Homo sapiens: one gene and its partner. The protein of the gene in region 2 interacts with the protein of the main gene of each other region in a biochemical or structural test. Each region holds a gene or a part of one and is shown on either strand. Other genes may lie near its edges.

Evidence for each region.
Region 1: the proteins of CFLAR (region 2) and TRIM31 form a complex in vitro, tested with the Homo sapiens proteins (one study listed by BioGRID).

Annotation. Positions count from the first base shown.
Region 1 is NC_000006.12:30,110,087-30,117,958, forward strand, and holds the start of TRIM31 (E3 ubiquitin-protein ligase TRIM31), read right to left. Parts: upstream 3,005-7,872; 5' UTR 2,978-3,004; intron 2,803-2,977; 5' UTR 2,720-2,802; coding exon 2,303-2,719; intron 1,754-2,302; exon of another isoform or gene 1,658-1,753; coding exon 1,562-1,657; intron 593-1,561; coding exon 362-592; intron 1-361.
Region 2 is NC_000002.12:201,168,157-201,175,181, forward strand, and holds part of CFLAR (CASP8 and FADD-like apoptosis regulator), read left to right. Parts: 3' UTR 1-7,025. UniProt on the Homo sapiens protein: Apoptosis regulator protein which may function as a crucial link between cell survival and cell death pathways in mammalian cells. Acts as an inhibitor of TNFRSF6 mediated apoptosis.

The sequences.
Region 1 (7,872 bases), on a different chromosome or scaffold from region 2:
TTTAAAATATTCATTACAGGCTGAAAGGATAATATTTCAGATATATTGAGTTAAAATATTTTATTAAAATTAATTTCACTTTTATCATTTTAATGTGACTAACTAGAAAAATTTGTAATTCCATATGTGGCTGAAACTACATTTCTAAATCACACATGTGGCCAGAATTATATTTATGAATTACATATGTGGCTCACATTTTCATTCTAATACATGCGGCTCACATATTGCTATTGGACAGCACTGGGCTAGAGGTAGGATGGTTGGGGCAATCTCAGGTATTCTGCCAGTGGTCCATGCTCTGACCTGAGACTAGGGATGGGCTGCTACCTCTCTGCAATTCTGCCCCCAAGGGACTCACCTCCAGCAGCTGCCTGGGTGGCATGTTCTGCTTGGTCTTCAGGGAATCAACGAGCTTCTTGAGATCGTTCAACTGTGGCTCAGTGGAGGCAACATAGTGTTTCCCCGCTTCCGTTCCCTCATGACCCAGCCAGTAAATCCGTGATAGCAGGAAATTCTTCTCCTCCTCTAGGACTTGATGCAGGAGTTCAAATTCTGTGAGGATCCTTTGCTTCTCATGTTCTACCTGGTCCTAAGAAACAGGGACAGGCAGAGGGTGAGAGGATGGCCTCGAAGGTCCTTCTAGCCCACTTTATTCAGCCATTAATTTTATTAAGTTTGTGTGGAATTCCCAACCAGAGCAATGTGCCAGGGCAGACCTGGAAGAAAGGAAAGGAGAGGAGAACAAACTTCTAAAAGCACCTACTACGTGCTCAGCTTTAAGCGAAATTATTAATTTATGGTTTACCACTTGCCTTCAAGGAACTGTCTAATACAATTCCAGAAGGCTTTTCAGTTTATAATCTTTCATATAGATTTTATTCCTTTCACGCACACAGGAAAATAGGTAAGTGGGGTCACAATGTCTTCATTTTCCTTCTGTCTTTTTTTTTTTTTTTTTTTGAGACAGTCTCTCACTCTGTCACTCAGGCTGGAGTGCAGTGCACGATCACGGCTCACTGCAGCCTCATCCTCCCAGGCTCAAACAATACTTTCACCTCCCAGCCTCTCTAGTAGCTGGGACTACAGGCGTGTGCTACCACGCCCGGCTAGTTTTCTTTCTTTTTTTTTTTAATTAAGAGGAGAGTCTCGCTATGTTGCCCAGGCTGGTCTCAAACTCCTGGGCTCAAGCGATCCTCAGCCTCCCAGAGTGCTGTGATTACTGGCGTGAGCCACCGCGCCCGGCCAATGTCTTCATTTTCTAATTGGGGAATCCGTTGAGGGCGCAGCTCGGCCTTAAAAACCTGTACTTGCGATTCTAAGACCAGCGCGGGTTTTCCGTGCCCCACCTTGTCTGCCGGTGGAGACTGAGCAGTCAGCCCGCTGTAATAGCGAGGCCGACGCGGGAGGTGATGCCGCCTGGCCGGTCAGGTGCTGAGGCGCCGAGGAGAGGACATGGCTCACTGGATCTTTTTCTGAGGGGTCAGTGTAATAGGGGATTCCAGGAGCTTTGGCAGAGATGTTTCTGCTTCCAGAGATCGTGGGATGGAGTTTTTCTTACCGTGAAGACATCGACCCTGTGTACACCTTGTGCCTTCACTTGTACTGTCTCCTTCTCCTTTTGCTGCAAGACTTGGATCTGCTCTTGAATCTGCCCCTGCGGAAAGAGGGCCGTTTGGACAGGCTGTGCCTGGAGATTTCTGGCCTCATAAAATCCTCCTGGTCTCTTAGGAGAGCTGGTGACACTCTCCAGGTGAGTCCTTGTGTAATTATTAAGGACTCGCCTTTCTCAAGCTGGCGGGGAAAGGGGTTGCTGAGAAGGGAGAAATCTGGAGCCTAAGTGACCTAAATGACCAGAACATAGTTATTTATGACTAACTAGGACTATGGATGGTGCTTTGGAATTATCAAAGAACTACAAACTTCCCTTCATCTGTCCTACCAACAACTTTAAGAGAGTTGTTTTGTTTTTGCCATTTGAAAGGTGAGGTACCTGAGGCTCAGAGAGGTAAAGTGATTCCTTGCAGGTTGTACAGTAAACTCACAAGACTGGGCTTGAGCCCAAACCTTCTGAGTCAAATTTTCACATCCTTTCCATTCTCCATTGCACCTTGATTTAGAGAGTCAGCAGTTCCCCAGACTCAGCTCTTTGAACCCACTGTGCCTGACTGCGAGCTGCCCACTCAAGCCCAAGGGGTGGGGGCAATGGGGTGCAAACCCTCAGTGGGAAGGTAGCAGTTTCCAGGGCCTCACTGAACTCCTGGGCTGATGGGGGAACAGGGAAGAAACCTCAAATGCCTACCTGATAATTCTGGGCAGCTTCTTCGATCAAGCTGACATTATGGGATTTGTGGTCCTTGGATTCACGACACACAAAACAGAGGAACTTCCCATCATCCTCGCAGAAATAGTGGAACATCTCCTGGTGCCTCGGGCATGTAGCCTCTTTCCTTTTGGACTGCACCTCAGAGGCTTGTAGAGCTTGGATTTTCTCCACCAGATTCCGCAACAGCGAGTTGAACCTGATTGCGTTCTTCCTTACGGAAGTTTTGCAGAGGGGACATTTGAAAAATCCACATGATGTTTCCCCAATCTGAGTGATGCATTTGAGGCAGAAATTGTGCCCACAGTCGATGGTGACAGGTTTCTGCAGAATGTCCAGGCAGATGGGGCAGATCACTTCCTCTTGCAGTTTGTTCACAAACTGCCCACTGGCCATGACAGAACAACAGGGCTGTTTCAAGACTGTAGGAAGCTGTGCCAAGTCTGTAGGAGCCCCGGAGTCCACTGTGGATACTGTTTCTAGGAAGGGAGAAGGGAGTCAGAGAAAGTGGAGGTCAGAGATTCTGCCAATTAGTTAGAAGAGCAGAGAGAGAGGAAAAGAAGAGGGAGAAAAAAATAAAGAAATGATAGAAAAGCGTAAAATTTAGGATCTAGAAAATATTATAAAGAGAGGAAAACAGATGGGCAGTCCTACCTTGCTACCTCTTGAGAACAAATGGATACTTTGAATGTGTAATAGGCTGCTTATAAAGTGAAATAAGTTGTCCTGAACTTTGGACTAAAGGTATGTTTGTATGGTGGTTGACTAAGATCAGAATGACCGGGGCACCAAACACCACTTATGGGGGATTTCCCAATCAGCTCTGAGTAGGGAGTGGAGGGGTGGGTGGTGATGCCTACTGAAAGGTCACAGCCAGTTCACTGCAATGCTTTGGGCATCTTGTATGCAAAGTTCAAGCCTTGGTAGAGCATCTGGAAAGTAGGGGAAGGGCAATTCTCTACCTCAGGTGCTTTGGCTCCTCACAGAATTTTGTGAAAATGTGGAGGTTATCATCACCTACCTTGGGGAATTTCCAGTCACAGGGTCAACCAACCACTCCCTAGCTCAGTAGGATAGGCAAGGAACTTCCTTTCTAAAGAGTTGTTCTTTGTTTTTGCACTTTGCTCTTGCCCCTGGTGATCTTCTGTCTCCCCACAACACCTGTAGTAGTCTGTCCTCTGTTGATTTTTTCTCTGTATGTCTCCAGTATGCTGGTGTCTCCGTGCCCATTCTTTGCTTTGCCAATTCTGTCTATATGTTCTTCTTCTTCCTTCTTGGTGCTTCTCTGATCCCTGACTTGCCTTCTATGGCTTTTGTTATGACTAGGAATATATCAACCAGTGTTACATACATTCCCTTCTGTACATTCATGTCCTAACCTTCCCTCCTTGCCTCTTGTCTTAAGGAAAAGGGTGCTTCCTCCCTACCCCTTCTCTTGGTATAGCTTCCACCCTCACCTCCTCACTCTCCATTATCAGCCGTCTGTCCCCAGCAAGAAGTACACCATTAATTTTTGTCTGATCTTAATCTTAGGTCAAACAGGGCTTGTGGATGATTATTATAATAATAGCCAGAGTGATCATACACTCTGCTTTGCCTGGAACCATCCTGGGTTTCACTTTGTCCTGGTGTAATTATTAATAGCACCTCCTTTCACTTTCAGAAATGTCCAGTTTGGACTATAAATTATGTGGCTCCCCTTATAGCAACTGCTGTAAACCAAAGACTTTCAGAAATGTTATACCTCCAGACCTTTCTTTTTGTTTGTTTTAGGGTTAAATTAAAACAGTCTAACATCTGTAAATTGTTTTACTTACACTCCTAAACTGCTGGCCCCTAGAAGCAGAATTTAACTTTTGACAGGTTTTGTTTGACTGGCATGATGATTTAGAAAATAATGATAATGTAGATGCCTTTAGAGAGGGTGGCTATGTTCCCCACCGCTCTGCTACCTCACGTCTCCTTGGCCCTTGAAGGCATTTGACATTATGACTCTGATTTATAGATTTATTTTGCTTATATTACCTCATTTAAGTCTCACCTGTAAGAAATTATCTTTATCCTTTCTCAAAAAAGGAACTCAGTATTCTTCAGAATCACTTGGAAAACTTGTTAAAATTCAGATTTGCTGAACTCCAGTAGAGACTTTCTCTTTCAACAGGTCCTTGGTGGAGCCTGATGATTGACATCTTAAGCAAATTCTCTGGAGAAGTCGATGCTCCTGATGGAGGCTCACACATTGATAACCCCTGGTTTAGAGACACTACTAATTGTTCCAGCTCATCCAGCTAATAAATGACAGATCTCAGACTTAATTCCAGGTTTCCTATTCCACATTAAGTCTTCTTTATTCTTTCTTGTTTCAGCATTAATGAAAACAAATAGTAATCTTTAAAAATGATAAACAAATATTTTAAAAGAACATTGGTATTTCAATGAAGCTGGGCAACCCAGCAGAGAGAATGAAAATACTCATATGAACACCACTGGAGAGTTTCAAAGAACTGTCACCAAACAGGTACTGATGGCTTCATGAGGAAGGAAATTTAGACATAAAAAATGAGAATCTACAGTGTTTCAAAGGTGCTTTACTCTCTCAGAATTATTATTGTTATCCTGGGTCATCCATCCACTGGACTGAATGGAGATATATATATACATATATTTTTTTTCTTTCTTCTTTCTTTTTTTTTTTTTTGAGACAGAGTTTCACTATTATTGCCCAGACTGGAGTGCAATGGCGTGATCTCGGTTCACTACAACCTCTGAATCCCCGGTTCAAGTGATTCTCCTGCCTCAGCCTCCCAAGTAGCTGGGATTACAGGCACCTGCCACCACATCCAGCTAATTTTTTGTATTTTTAATAGAGACGGGGTTTCACCACGTTGGCCAGGCTGGTCTTGAACTCCTGACCTCAGATGACCCACCTGCCTCAGCCTCCCAAAGTGCTGGGATTACAGGCGTGAGCCACTGTGCCCAGCCCTTGAATGGATATCTTAAACTCTTAGTAGGCTCAGTAGTCTGAAACCAAATGCCTCCAATTTGCAAGGGCTAGGGTCTTGAGATAGTTGGTATTGTGTTAGTTCCAAAGGACTTCCAAGCCAATTCTGAGGCATAGAGTTTATAAAAATTAGCCATAGAACAGGAAATGATGCAGAGCCTCATGCACATGAGACAGCTGTCACACACAAGAAAGCAGACACAGAGCCATGCAGCAGCGAGTGCACAGATCTGGAGGGGACCTGCCAAGACTAATGGGATGAGACACCTTATCAGAGGCCAGTGAAGGCTAGAGGCAGCTCAGTTGTCAGACTAGACAGCCCCACAATGTTACATAAGCCTCCCTGCATCACGATTCCAGCTACAGAAGCTTCCCCTGCCTCAGGATTCACATTTCCGGGCCTATGTGAATTGGTAGAATGTCTATGGAGGAAAATAATGTGATATGTTTCAAAACTACAAATGCTCATTCCCTTTATCCCAGAAATTCCACCTCTGGGAATTTAGTCTACAGATATACTCACACATATAAATTTATTTTGGACTTTGTGGTAATGTTTGCATTAGCAAAATATTAGAAAACAATCTAAATGTACATCAGTATGGAAATGTTTAAATAAATTATAGCCCAGCTTTATAACAGAATAGAAATAAAAAAGAATCAGGGAGTTCCTTATTTACATATGGAAAATATGGCCAAGATATGTTGTTATGTGAAGAAAGGAAAAAACAAATAATGCAGAAAAATGCATGTACTATGCTACCATTTGGGTAGAAAAAAAATACTTATTTTCTTGAATATCCAAATAAGTTCTTTCTGGAAGGATAAGAATTTAATAACTAACAATGGTTGTCTCTAAGGAGAGGGACTGACTAGCCAGGGAACAGGGGTGGAAGAGAGGCTTTTCTTTGTATGACATATTACATTTTGTGAATTTTTAATTGTATAAATACATTAAGTTTTTTTCTTTTTTAGTACTTTTTACATTATGTTTTACAACATTAAATAGTAAATCAAAAAATGGACAGAGAATGAAATGGACATTTGCAGAGCAATAAAACCAATTAACCAATAAATACTTGAAAACAGTAATCTTGAAAATGCACGCTCAACTCATTGGCTCATGCCTGTAATTCCAGCACTTTGTGAGGCCAAGGCAGGCAGATTTCTTGAGCATAGGAGTTCAAGAGCAGCCTGGACAACATGGTGAAACCCTGTCTCTACAAAAAATACAAAAGTTAGCTGGGCATGGTGGCACACACCTATAGTCCCAGCTTCTTGGAAGGCTGATGCAGGAGGATTGCATGAACCTGCGAGATCGAGGCTGCAGTGAGCCGTGATCATGCCACTGCACTTTAGCCGCCCTACTGCACTCCAGCTTGGGTAACAGAGCAAGACGTTTCCTTAAAAAAAAAAAAAAAAGAAAGAAAGAAAGAAAAAGAAAAAAGAAAATGCCAATTAAAATAAAAGAAGATATCAGTTTATATCTTAAGTTTAAGTCTGGAATATCAAATATAGCCAAGGACATGGAGAAATAGGTACTCCTATACCCTACTGGTGAGAGTATAAATTACAATAATTTAAAAATATTTAGTAGAATTTAAACGGTGTACTTTCATTTCAAGGTTCTGTAATGATAATGATGATGATGAAAATACTGCTACCAGTAAATAAAAGCTAACATTTCTTGAATGCTTACCATGTGCCAGGCACAGTCCCAAGCATTTTGCGTATTAACTCATTTATATAGAGAAGTATTATTATTCCCATTTTGAGGACAAGTCAACGGAGATCAAGAGAGATTAAGCAATTTGCCCCAAAGGTCATTCAGTAAGTAAATAGTGGAATGGGGACTTGAACCCAGGTAGCCTCTAGAGCCTTCTTACACCCTGTATGATTCTGCCTCTCTAGAGAAAACCTTGCACATGTGCACTCAGAGATGCATGTAACAGTATTAATATTGGCTGGGTGCGGTGGCTCCCGCCTGTAATCCCAGCACTTTGGGAGGCTGAGGCGGGCGGATCACGAGGTCAGGAGATCAAGACCATCCTGGCTAACCCGGTGAAACCCTGTCTCCACTAAAAATACAAAAAATTAGCCAGGCATGGTGGCCGGCGCCTGTAGTCCCAGCTACTCGGGAGGCTGAGGCAGGAGAATGGCGGGAACCTGGGAGGCGGAGCTTCCAGTGAGCCGAGATCGCGCCACTGCCCTCCAGCCTGGGCGACAGGGTGAGGCTCCGTCTCAAAAAAATAAATAAATAAATAAATAAATCCTATGTCAGGGTTTTTCAATGATAGCACTGTTGACATTTTAGGCTGGATAATTCTTTGGTGTGTGGTGGCCCTGTGCACTGTAGGATGTTTACCAGCATCCCTGGCCTCTACCACTAGATTCCAGTAGCACTCCTATCCCCCAGTTGTGACAAACAAAAATGTCTCCAAGCATGACCAAATGTCCCTGGGGGACAAAACCTCTGATGGAAAACCAGTGATCTGTATGTAGTCATATGGCTAGGTCTCAAAACAGTAATGAGTATGTGGTGATTTAT
Region 2 (7,025 bases):
GCATGAACCTGGGAGGTGGAGCTTGCAGCGAGCTGAGATCTTGCCACTGCACTCCAGCCTGGGCGACAGTGCGAGACTCTGTCTCAAAAATAAATAAATAAATAAATAATAAATAAAATGTTTGGAATGTTGGCTTCATCCCTGGGATGCAAGGCTGGTTCAACATACGCAAATCAAGAAACATAATTCATCACATAAACAGAACTAAAGACAAAAACCACATGATTATCTCAATAGATACAGAAAAGGCCTTCAATAAAATTCAACGTTGCTTCATGTTAAAAACTCTCAATAAACTAGGTATTGATGGAAAATATCTCAAAATAATAACCATTTATGACAAACCCACAGCCATTATCATACTGAATGGGCAAAAGCTGGAAGCATTCCCCTTGAAAACTGGCACAAGACAGGGATGCCGTCTCACCACTCCTATTTAACATAGTATTGGAAGTTCTGGCCAAGAAAATCAGGCAAGAGAAACAAATAAGGGGTATTCAAATAGGAAAAGAGGAAGTAAAACTGTGTTTGCAGATGACATGATACTATATCTAGAAAACCCCATTATCTCCACCCAAAAGTTCCTTAAGCTGATAAGCAACTTCAGCAAAGTCTCAGGATACAAAATCAATGTGCAGAAATCACAAGCATTCTATACACCAACAATACACAAGCAGAGAGCCAAATCATGAATGAACTCCCATTCACAGTTGCTAGAAAGAGAATAAAATACCTAGGAATACAGCTAATAAGATGTGAAGGATCTCTTCAAGGAGAACTACAAACCACTGCTCAAGGAAATAAGAGAGGACACAAATGAAAAAACATTCCATTCTCGTGGATAGGAAGAATCAATATCATGAAAATGGCCATACTACCCAAAGTAATTTATAGGTTCATTGCTATTCCCATTAAACTACTATTGACATTCTTCACAGAATTAGAAAAAAACTACTTTAAAATTCAAATGGAACCAAAAAAGAGCCCGTATAACCAAGACAACAATAAGCAAAAAGAACAAAGCTGGAAGCATCACACTACCCAACTTCAAAGTATACTGCAAGGCTACAGTAGCCAAAATGGCATGGTACTGGTACAAAAACAGACACATAGACCAATGGAACAGAATAGAGACCAGAGAAAGAAGACCACACATCTACAGCCATCTGATCATCGACAAACCTGACAAAAACAAGCAATGGGGAAAAGATTCCCTATTTAATAAATGGTGCTGGGAAAACTGGCTAGCCATATGCAGAAAATTGAAACTGACCCCTTCCTTACACCTTATACAAAAATTAACTCAAGATTAAAGACTTAATGTAAAACCTAAAACTATAAAAACCCTAGAAGAAAATCTATTTAATACCATTCAAGACATAGGCACAAGCAAAGGTTTCATGACAAAAACATCAAAAGCAATTGCAACAAAAGCAAAAATTACAAATGGGATCTAATTAAACTAAAGAGCTCCTGCACAGCAAAAGAAACTATCATTAGAGTGAACAGGCAACCTACAGAATGGGAGAACATTTTTGCAATCTATCCATCTGACAAAGGTCTAATATCCAGAACCTACAAGGAACTTAAAACAAATTTACAAGGAAAAAAACAACCCCATCAAAAAGTGGACAAAGGACATGAACAGACACTTCTCAAAAGAAGACATTTATGTGGCCAACAAACATATAAAAAAAAGCTCAACCTTACTGATCATTAGAGAAATGCAAAGGAGAACCACAATGAGATACCATCTCATGCCGGTCAGAATGGTGATTATTAAAAAGTCAAAAAACAACAGATGCTGGCGAGGCTGTGGAGAAGTAGGAACACTTTTACATTGTTGGTGGGAATGTAAATTAGTTCAACCGTTGTGGAAGTGTGTGTGGCTATTCCTCAAAGATCTAGAACTAGAAATACTATTTGTCCCAGCAATCCCATTACTGGGTATATACCCAAAGGAATATAAACCATTTTATTATAAAGATACATGCACATTTTTGTTCATTGCAGCACTCTTCACAATAGCAAAGACACAATAGCAAATGCCCATCAAAGATAGACTGGATAAAGAAAATGTGGTACATATACACCATGGAATACTGTGCAGTGCAGCCATTACAGCTTTTGGTGATACAGTGAATCAGATTTTTCATTAATTCTTTTAATTGGTTATTACTGAACGTGAAAAAGTAATGTTTGTATTGAAATCTTGAGTCTGGCCATGTTTCTATTTTAAATTCATAAAGAATTCTAACAAGAGGAATTCCAAGAATGTCATAAATGGATGTTTCTCCATGGATGAAGGAACTGTTTTATTCACTTGCTGATAATTCAGCCTAATCCAGTTTGACATCATATAGATAAGTAGTTGAATTATGGATTTAAAATACATATCATTTTCTAACTCCAAAGGTAATACTTATTTAAATGGTTTTGAAAATATAGAAAGGCACAATTTCTTTTTAAATCTGTTATTCTCCACCACCACTCAATCTGTCTATCATCTATCTCTCCATTCATTCTTCCATTTGTTTATATCTGTTAATCTTTGTATGTGTTCATGTATAGCTTTTACATGATTGGAATCATAATGCATATTCCATTTTGAAGTCTGCTTTTTTTTACACAAAAATATGTTGTGAATATTTTCCTATATTATGAAATATCATTAGCTGAGCTTTTAGAATTGACTGCATGTTTTGGTACCATTTAGATATAGTTTAAGATACTTAGAAGTTATGTGGCTTTGCCACTATGGATGAATCTTATTTACTCAATATTAATTACTTACAAATAACCTCACCTAAACACTACTCAGCCATAAAAAGGAATGAATTAATGACATTCACAGCAACCTGGAGACTATTACTCTAAAGGAAGTAACTGAGGAATGGAAAACCAAACATTGTATGTTCTCACTCATAAGTGGGAGATAAGCTATGAGGATGCAAAGGCATAAGAAGGATACAATGGACTTTGGGGACTTAGGGGAAAGGGTGGGAGGGGGGTGAAGGATAAAAGAATACAAATTGGGTTCAGTGTATACTGCTCAGGTGATGGGTGCACCAGAATCTCACAAGTAACCACTTAATTACTTACGCATGTAACCAGATACCACCTGTTCCCCAAACACCTATGGAAATAATTTTGTTTTTTTTTTTAAAAAAGGAATGAGATCATGTCCTTTGCAGGGACATGGATGAAGCTGGAAGCCATTATCCTCAGCAAACTAACAGAGGAGCAGGAAACCAAACACCACATGTTCTCACTTGTAAGCGGAAGCTGAACAATGAGAACACACGGACACAGGGATGAGATCAACACACACTGGGGCCTGATGCAGGGGCCGTAGCGGGGAGAGCATCAGGATAACTAGCTAATGCATGTGGGGCTTAATACCTAGGTGATAGGTTGATAGGTGCAGCAAACCACCATGGGACACGTTTACCTATGTAACAAACCCGCACATCCTGCACTTGTATCCAGAACTTAAAATATTTTAAAAATCTTTAGAGAATACAAAAAAAAAAAAAAAGATTCTTCAATGCATACACAATAAAATTGCAGTTCAGTCAAACATTGGAAGTCTTTCTCTGACTGTCTAGTTGGTATCTTCATTTTCAGCTTCTTCAAGATCCCACTCCAAACACTGTTAGCTCAGCCAAATTGAACAGCTCATATCTCCTACCTCTGGATCTTTGGTTCTGGTGATTGTATATTTCTGGACCATCTGGAACCCCAGCATATCACCCTACCCCACATCTCCACATCCCCAAAATATAACCATACTTCAAGGGCAGTTCAAATACCATCTCCTTCTATCCTCCATGAAGTCAGTTATCTCTTCCATTGGAATTATCGCCCCCTCTCCTGAACAGTACTATTTCGTGTGAATCTCCTCCAAGCCTTCTTTTCATTTTATATCTCATGCTGTAATTCTTGGAAAGTATGCTGTAGCTCAAGTGCAGAATTCTCATCAGTTTTATCTTTATATCTCTCCTAAACACTTTACCTGATGAAGAGCCTGGCATACACATAAATATATATTGAATGAATCAGTGATGGATTGAAAAGAGAAATGATGGATCTCCTAAATTTTAACTTTTATAAAATATTTTGATACATTCATGACCTTACTTTAGCAAGCAATGAACGTGATGTAAACTATTGTTGATATAGTTTTTATATTGGAAGTGTAAGTAGTTTGTGGCATGGGATTGTGACATATCCTAGGTTTCCTCATCTTCTTTTTATTGAAATGTAATTCACAAGCCATAAAATTTGCCCCTTTAAAGTAAATGATGCAGTGGATTTTAGTATATTTACAGAGTTGTGCAATCATCACCACTATCTAATTCCAGAACATTTCCATCTACCTAGAAACTCCATACCAGTGAGCTGCCACTCTAATCCTCCTCTTCCCCCAGCCTCTAGAAACAATAATCCATTTTCTGTCTCTATGATTTGCCTGTTCTAGATATTTTATAAAAATAAACATGTGGCCTTTCGTGTCTGACTTCCTTCACTTAGCATGTTTCAAGGTTCATCTATGCTATAGAGTGTACCAGTGCTTCATTACATTTTATGGCTGAATAATACCCTATTGTGTGGATATACCGCATTTAGTTTATTCATCAGTTGATCGAAATTTAGACTGTTTCCACTTTTTTGCTATTATGGATGATGCTGCTATGAATATTCGTATATGAATTTTTATATGGATATATGTTTTCAGTTCTTCTGGGCATATACCTTAGAAGTGAGAGTGCTCATCATATAGTAACTCTATGTTTAGCCTTTTGAGGAACTGCCAAACTGCTTTTCAAAGTAGTAGCATCATTTTATATTCCCACCAGCAGTGTATGAGGTTTTTTTTATTTTTTTGTTTTTGAGACGGAGTCTCACTCTGTCGCCCAGGGTGGAGTGCAGTGGCGTTATCTTGATTCACTGTAACCTCTGCCTTCTGGGTTCAAGCCATTCTCCTGCCTCAGCCTCCCTAGTAGTTGGGAGTAGCTGGGTTTACAGGAGCTCGCCACCATGCCCAACTAATTTTTGTATTGTTTTTTGAGACGGAGTCTCGCTCTGTGGCCCAGGCTGGAGTGCAGTGGTGCAATCTCAGCTCACTGCAAGCTCCGCCTCCTGGGTTCATGCCATTCTCCTGCCTCAGCCTCCCAAGTATCTGGGACTACAGCCGCCCTCCACCACGCCCGGCTAATTTTTTGTATTTTTAGTAGAGACAGGGTTTCACCGTGTTAGCCAGGATGGTCTCTATCTCCTGACCTCGTGATCCGCCTGCCTTGGCCTCCCAAAGTGCTGGGATTACAGGCGTGAGCCACCGCGCCCAGCCAATTTTTGTATTTTTAGTAAAGACAGGGTTTCACCATGTTGGCCAGGCTGGTCTCGAACTCCTGGCCTCAGGTGATCTGACTGCCTTGGCTTCCCAAAGTGCTGGCATTACAGACATTAGCTACTGTGCCTGGCCTCAAGTCCTTTCTCATTTTAAAACTGCGTTATTTTATTTTATTTTTCTGAGATGGAATCTCACTCTGTCGCCCAGGTTGGAGTGCAGTGGTGCAATCTCGGCTCACTGCAACCTCCACCTCCTGAGTTCAAGCGACTCTCCTGCCTCGGCCTCCCTAGTAACTGGGATTACAGGCACCCACCATCACGCCTGGCTAATTTTTGTATTTTTAGTAGAGACAGGGTTTCGCCATGTTGGCCAGGCTGGTCTTGAACTCCTGAACTCAGGTGATCTGCCTGCCTCGGCCTCCCAAAATGCTAGGATTACAGGCGTGAGCCACCACACCCGGTGGGTTGTCTTTTTATTGTTGAGTTGTAAGCATTCTTTTTAATATTCTGGATACTAGTTTCTTATCAGGTACAATCTTTGTGAATATATTCTCCCATTCCATGGATTGTCTTCTCACTTTCTGGATACTATACAGTACAAGTTTTAAATTTTGATGAAGTTCACTTGATTTCTGTTTTTTATGTTATTGCTTATGCTTTTGGTGTCATACCTAAAAAACCATTGTCTAAATCAATTGCCTATGAGGTGTTACCCCTATGTTTTCTTCTAAAGTTTTATGATTTTAGCTCTTTGACCCATTTTGAGTTATTTTTGTGTATGCAGTGCGAGATAAGCATCCAGCCTCATTCTTTTGCACATAAATGTTCACTTGTCTTAGCATTACTTATTGAAAATACTATTTTTTCCCTATAGAATTATTTTATACTTATCACAAATCAACTAACTATAAGGGTTTATTTCTGGACTCAATTCTGTTGCTCTATCTTATGGTAGTACCACACTGTCTTGATTATTGTAACTTCGTAGTAAGTTTTGGAATCCAGAAATGTAGTCCTCTAACTTTGTTGTTGTTGTTGTTCTTCTTTTTTCTTTTGTAGAGATGAGGCCTTGCTATGTTGCCCAGGCTGGTCTCAAACTCCTGGCCTCAAACAATCCTCCCACCTCCACCTCCCAAAGTGCTGAGGGGTGAGCCACTGCAACTGGCCTGTTCTTTTTCAAAATTGTTAGGGCTGTATTGGGTTTACCTTTCCCTAAATTTTCATATAACTGTTAGGATTCACTTGCAAATTTATGTAAAAAGGGCCTCTGGAATTTTGATAGTGATTACACTGAATGAGAGGAGTTTGGCAGGACTGGTTTCCCAAGACCACAAGACCCTGTAAGACCCTGCTGATAAGACAGGATGTGGTAGAAAGGCCAACCCAAACCAGCCAAAACCATGATGGTGACAGAAGAGACCTCTGGTTACCTTTGCTGCCCATTCTATGGTAATTATAATACATTAGCACGCTAAAAGAAACTTCTACAGCACCATGATAGTTTACAACTGCCATAGCAACTTTCAGAAGTTACCCTGTATGGTCTAAAAGGTCCAGACCTCCCCACTTCTTTCCTGGAAAACTCATGAATAAGCCACCTCTTGTTTAGCGTATAGTCAAGAAGCAACCATAAATATAGCCAGTCAGCAGCCCATCAGGGCTACTCTTCCTAT